Linked DNA regions of Homo sapiens: region 1 is linked to region 2. Evidence: fine-mapped expression QTL. A gene starts in region 2. The other region holds a variant in brackets. All regions are shown on one strand. Distances are from middle to middle. Region 1 holds the start of BICDL2 (BICD family like cargo adaptor 2). Region 2 holds the start of MMP25-AS1 (MMP25 antisense RNA 1).

What was found. PIP is the estimated chance that this variant, and not a neighbour inherited with it, causes the effect.
Region 1: its variant is the best candidate, but not a certain one, in a credible set for the expression of MMP25-AS1 in esophagus muscle (GTEx, PIP 0.51).

Annotation. Positions count from the first base shown.
Region 1 is chr16:3,036,382-3,039,388 of GRCh38, forward strand. BICDL2 (BICD family like cargo adaptor 2) reads right to left here and starts at 563. Exons shown (of 10, transcript NM_001369667.1): 1 at 513-563. LOC100128770 (a long non-coding RNA gene) reads left to right here. Exons shown (of 8, transcript NR_047572.1): 4 at 1-579; 5 at 898-1,014; 6 at 1,249-1,325; 7 at 1,454-1,631; 8 at 1,927-2,752. RefSeq lists an enhancer at 1,273-2,160. The variant T/G (reference allele first, on the strand shown) is at 1,404.
Region 2 is chr16:3,058,273-3,060,772 of GRCh38, forward strand. MMP25-AS1 (MMP25 antisense RNA 1) reads right to left here and starts at 1,098. Exons shown (of 5, transcript NR_123723.1): 1 at 724-1,098; 2 at 268-430. It overlaps MMP25 (matrix metallopeptidase 25), which reads left to right. Exons shown (of 10, transcript NM_022468.5): 8 at 1-61; 9 at 140-397; 10 at 555-2,454. The coding sequence ends at 826. LOC124900372 (sialidase-like) reads right to left here and starts at 1,098. Exons shown (of 3, transcript XM_047435000.1): 1 at 724-1,098. RefSeq lists silencers at 1-17, 48-177, 318-367, 828-1,297 and an enhancer at 1,336-2,241.

The DNA of each region.
Region 1 (3,007 bases), 22 kb before region 2:
GGGTTCAGGGGCTCGGGTCAGAGGGCCCGACACAACAGCTTTACCAGCCCCAGCCCTCCGGGGGCTCACCACCCACTAGGCACACACACCCGTGCTCTCCCTCCTCCTCTCGCCCGGTGTCCATGTGCAGCCCTGCTCGCAGGACGTGAGTGTCACGGTGGTCCCAGCCCAGCCGCCCCCAGGCCGCTCCCGGGGACCTCCCTGACTTGGCCCTCGCGGGCCCCGCTCCCCCGCCCCCCTCCACGCGAGAGACAGGGACCTGGAGACCGCTCCCCCTCCCCTTCCGCACCTAGCTGCCCAGGTGTTGGGGCCTCCAGCCCCAGGCGTCGGAAGCCCAGAGAAGCGGCTGGGCTCACCCCCGACGGCTGAGTTCCTGCCGGCGCCCCCGGTTCCCCGGCGATCCCGGTTCCCCTGCCCCCGCCCCGGCTCCCCCACCTTCTCCGCCGACGCGGCCGGACCAGGCCCTCCCCAGGCTCGAGGGGCCCGGCCCTCGGCGTCCCCCAGGCTCTCACCCGAAGCCGCCGGGCTCCCTCCGAGGTCCCCGCGGTCTCCGGTCCCCTCTTCCGGAGGCGGCTCCAGGTGTGCGGCCAACACAGGTGAAGGGGCGGGGCCGCGGGAGGGGCCGGGGCGCTCCCTGGCTGCCTGAATGGCCGGGCGGGGTCGAGGGAGAGTCGCTTCCACCTGGGTGGGGGGCACTGGCCCAACCTGCTGTGGTTGCAAATGGCCCGGCCAGTTAACTGAGCATCTACTGTTTGCAGATCCTACATTGAGGTAGCCTCCGCTCCTTTCCCGTCACGACTGCCTTGCCCTGTGGGGCAGGAAATTATTAGCAATGACAACAACACCGAATCTGACATCTTAAGCATTCTGCTAAGTAAACTCTTTTTTATTTTTTAGAGATGGGATTTTGCTCTGTCACGCAGGCTGGAGTGCAGTGGCACCATCACTGCAGTCTCGTCCTCCCAGGCTCAAGCGATCCTCCCACCACAGCCTCCCCCGTAGCTGGGACTGCAGGTACATGCCACCATGCCCAGCTAATTTTTGTACTTTTTGTAGGGGTGGGGTTTCACCATGTTGCCCAGGCTGGTCTCAAACTTCTGGATTCAAGCAATCCTCCCGCTTCGGCCTCCCAAAGTGCTGGGATTACAGGCATGAGCCTCTGCTTCTGGTCAAGTAAACTCTTTTATAGGCATAACTTGTTGACCTTTTTTTTTTTTTTTGAGATGGAATTTTACTCTTCTTGCCCAGGCTGGAGTACAGTGGTGCCATCTCAGCTCACAGCAGCCTCCGCTCCCGGGTTCAAGTGATTCTCCTGTCTCAGCCTGGTGAGTAGCGGGTACTATAGGCATGCACCACTACATCCAGCTAATTTTGTATTTTTAGTAGAAATGGTGTTTCAATGT[T/G]TTGGCCAGGCTGGTCTCAAACTCCTGACCTCGTGATCCGCCCACCTCAGCCTCCCAAAGTGCTGGGATTACAGAGTGAGCCACCTCCCCGGCTCAACTTGTTGACTTTCATGATGACCTGATGACGAGGAACTGCTGTCATCCCCATCTTACAGATGAGGAAGCTGAGGCTCGGAGGCGGAGGGGGGTCCTCCACCTTGTTTGGGGTCCCCTGGTCAGAACTGGAAGGTGAACAGCACAAGTGTGGCTTTAGGGTCATGCTCTTTACTGATTCCCATGCCGCAGACAAGGACACTGTAGCCCAGGCAGTGAGAGTGACTTGCCCAGAGCCATGCCCGAGTCCGTGTGGCTCCACACCTGGGGTTCTCAGTTCCTCAGTTATGCAGAGCTGGGGACCGTGCTCTTGTCTGGGACAGGGGCTTTGGTGTGGAGATGGGAAGGTCCGGGGCTGGGGACCCAGGGTGGCTTGGGCAGCAGTGATGCCCCATCCATGGCCTTGTGTCTTGTCACGATTTATCTCCAGACTCCAGGGCTCCCTGGGCCTCGTGACAGGGGCTCCTGGCCTGGAGAGCAGGACAGATGGAAGGCTGGGAGCAGTGGCGTGCTGGTAAGCGTTTAACAACAGGCTCCCCGGCTAAAACAATAGCCCTCGCTCGTTGCATTTGCCAATATCCATGATGCAATACCTGCTCCTCGGCTGACTTCCAGCTACTCACCTGGCGTCACGGAGTGCAGAGGTAGAAGGGGCTGTGCACATCAGCTCTGGCTGGCTGGTGTCAGCTGGGTCCGTGCACCTCTGGCTGGGGATCAGGACTCCTGAGTCTTGGGGGACTGGGGGCTACTTACTTGGGTTCTAGAAAAATAGGAGGAGGGTGGGGGCTGGGACTCCTGGCTTGTGGGAAAAGGGGAGCAAGGACTCCTTGGAGGGGTGACTTAGGAACTGGGACTCCTGGGTCCTGGGGCTGGGACAGGGTTTTCTGCCAGCAGAGAGTAGGGGAGCCAGAGATTTGTCTTACAGCCACATTGCCCAGCAAGCCTGACACTTTCTCCCACTGCACCTGTGGGAGCAGCCTGGTAGCCACTGGAGGACTGAAGACATCCCAGCCTCCCCTGGGTGCTGCTATGTGACCCTCTGGAAATAGAAGCTCAGTGTCCCCTCCAAATGCCAGTCACCCTGGGCCCCACTCACACCCACACGTAGCACATCTTGAGCGCCTCCTGCCAGGCTGAGCTCATCCCAGGATGAAGTGATTACAGCCCTACTCCCAGAAGGTTCACAGTCCACCTGGGCCATGGGAGGGAGCGTAGACCTATAAACCAGAAATGAACCAATAAAACAGTACAGCAAAGTGCTTGGCCCATGGGTGCTGGCATCACATAGCTTCGGTCCAGGATCCAGTTGGCCACATACCAGATGTGGGTGCCTATGCCCTTCAGCTGATTAACCTCTGCGGCCCTCAGTTTCCCCATCTGTAAAATGGGGATGATAGTTCCTAGCTTATAGGGATGTGAGGATTTTTTTTGAGATGGAGTCTCGCTCTCTCCCCCAGGCTGGAGTGCGGTGGTGAGATCTCGCCTCACCGCAACCTCTGCCTCCCGGTTTC
Region 2 (2,500 bases):
GTGAGGGTGGTGCAGGCCGCCTATGCTCGGCACCGAGACGGCCGAATCCTCCTCTTTAGCGGTGAGTGGGGCCGGCGGCGGGGCGCGCTGGGGCCGGCGCGGGGAGCCCACCCCTGACCTCCCGGCCTCCACCCTGCAGGGCCCCAGTTCTGGGTGTTCCAGGACCGGCAGCTGGAGGGCGGGGCGCGGCCGCTCACGGAGCTGGGGCTGCCCCCGGGAGAGGAGGTGGACGCCGTGTTCTCGTGGCCACAGAACGGGAAGACCTACCTGGTCCGCGGCCGGCAGTACTGGCGCTACGACGAGGCGGCGGCGCGCCCGGACCCCGGCTACCCTCGCGACCTGAGCCTCTGGGAAGGCGCGCCCCCCTCCCCTGACGATGTCACCGTCAGCAACGCAGGTGGGGAGCGCGGTGACCTGCGGGTTACTGGGCCTGGGGGTGGGGAGAGGGATGTGGGGAATGGGGACATGGAGGCCACCCTGCGGGGATGGGGGTCCTTGGGCATCAGGGAGCGGCGGGGCGGGGAGGGACCGGGACTCAAGCTCTGCTCCTCCAGGTGACACCTACTTCTTCAAGGGCGCCCACTACTGGCGCTTCCCCAAGAACAGCATCAAGACCGAGCCGGACGCCCCCCAGCCCATGGGGCCCAACTGGCTGGACTGCCCCGCCCCGAGCTCTGGTCCCCGCGCCCCCAGGCCCCCCAAAGCGACCCCCGTGTCCGAAACCTGCGATTGTCAGTGCGAGCTCAACCAGGCCGCAGGACGTTGGCCTGCTCCCATCCCGCTGCTCCTCTTGCCCCTGCTGGTGGGGGGTGTAGCCTCCCGCTGATGGGGGGAGCCATCCAGACCGAACAGCGCCCTCCACGGCCGAGTCCCCCGCCGCTGGACCTGGTCGGGGGTTGTGAGGCGCTGCGGAGGCCCCTTGTCTGTTCCCACGGACGGGGGCTCGGGCGCGGACTAAGCAGGGGGGATCTCCCGCGCAGGGGCGGCGGCGGCGGGGACCGGTCGCCTGGCGCTGGGCTCAGTCTCCTCAGGGTCTGAGACCCCGGCGCTGCCACCGGAACCCGCCTTCAGGGGCGCACGCGCGCTGGGACCATGCGTCGGTCGTCGCCCCCGTCGTTCCCTCCCGGCTGCCGCCAGGGGGCGGTCGGACCCCGCCTCCCGAGCCCGGGGAGGGGCGGGGAGGACAAGGGGCGGGCCCGCGGCCTCACCCGGAGGGACGGCAGCCCCGGTCGCGCGCTGGCCCCGCAGGACCTTCCTTTTCCAGGAAGAGCCAGCTTTTCTCGGAGCGCAGTCCTGGGACTCTCCGCAGCCCCGCCCCGCCTGGCCACTGCGTCTGGCATTCCTGGGTCGTTAGAGGACAGGCCTGACTGCGAAGCTGTGCCTTGCCCCTCTCCCACCCGCAGTTTCTCACCCCGTTCTGCTCCCACAAGGCCCCCCTACAGTCACTGCCACACTGGTGGGGACCTGGGACCCAGACCCGGAACCAGCCCAGATATCACCCCTGAGGACCCATGCGCCACGTCCTGGGTGGTGGAATCAGTGGCTGGAGGGACGACCCTTGCTCTCCAGGCTGTTAACCTTTTCCGTTGCTCCCCCGCCACCCACCTCCTCCTCCCCAGGCCACCCAACTTGGGCACCTCCCTGGGCCCAGAACTGCCTTCCATTCAATGGGGAACCCTTCTATCCCCAAGAACCCCTTCCCTGCTTGCACCCTGGAGAGAACAGCTTGACTCCCATCAACTCAACGCTGGTGGAAAGACAGGGACCGAACCCTGGCTCAGGCCTGGTCATTGCCTCCTCAGCACTCCCTCCTGGGAGGCCTTAGCTCTAGAGTGAGGGGTGGGTGGAACCTGGGGGCACCTCGTTCACCCTGTCCCCACTCCCCACAGTTTTAGGATCTAAATGATTGCCTCTGGAACTATTCTTCTAGACTATCCCACATCAGAATCACTGGGAAATTTAAGTTTGCAGATCCCACACTCACCCTGAATCCTCACTCAGGGTGGGGTCAGGAATCTGCATTTTAACTAGTCGCGGGGATTGTGGGGGGCAGTAGCTGGCTGTTTCGTGGCATTTCTGTGGCTCTGCAGTGTTCCTCCACCCCAGGACCAATATGTTCAGGCCACACCGATGGCCTGAACCCCATGGGTAGAGTCACTTAGGGGCCACTTCCTAAGTTGCTGTCCAGCCTCAGTGACCCCCTAGTGCTTCCTGGAGCTGAGGCTGTGGGCGGCTGTCCCAGCAACCATGCGAGGGGTTGCCCCAGTTGCTCATACAAACAGATCAGCATGAGGACAGAAGGCAGGAGACTTTGGTCAGTTACCTGGGAATTCTGGGCTGCCAGGAAACGATTTGGGCCTCTGTCAGTTTCTTTTCCATGTATGAGGAGGGGGAAATTTGTATATTAGAAACTTATTCATCCCACTCAGGACAATAAAAACGAATGTACAAAAAGCCCTTCCATTCTTCTGAGCATTGATGGACCTGGGGAGAAGTGTGG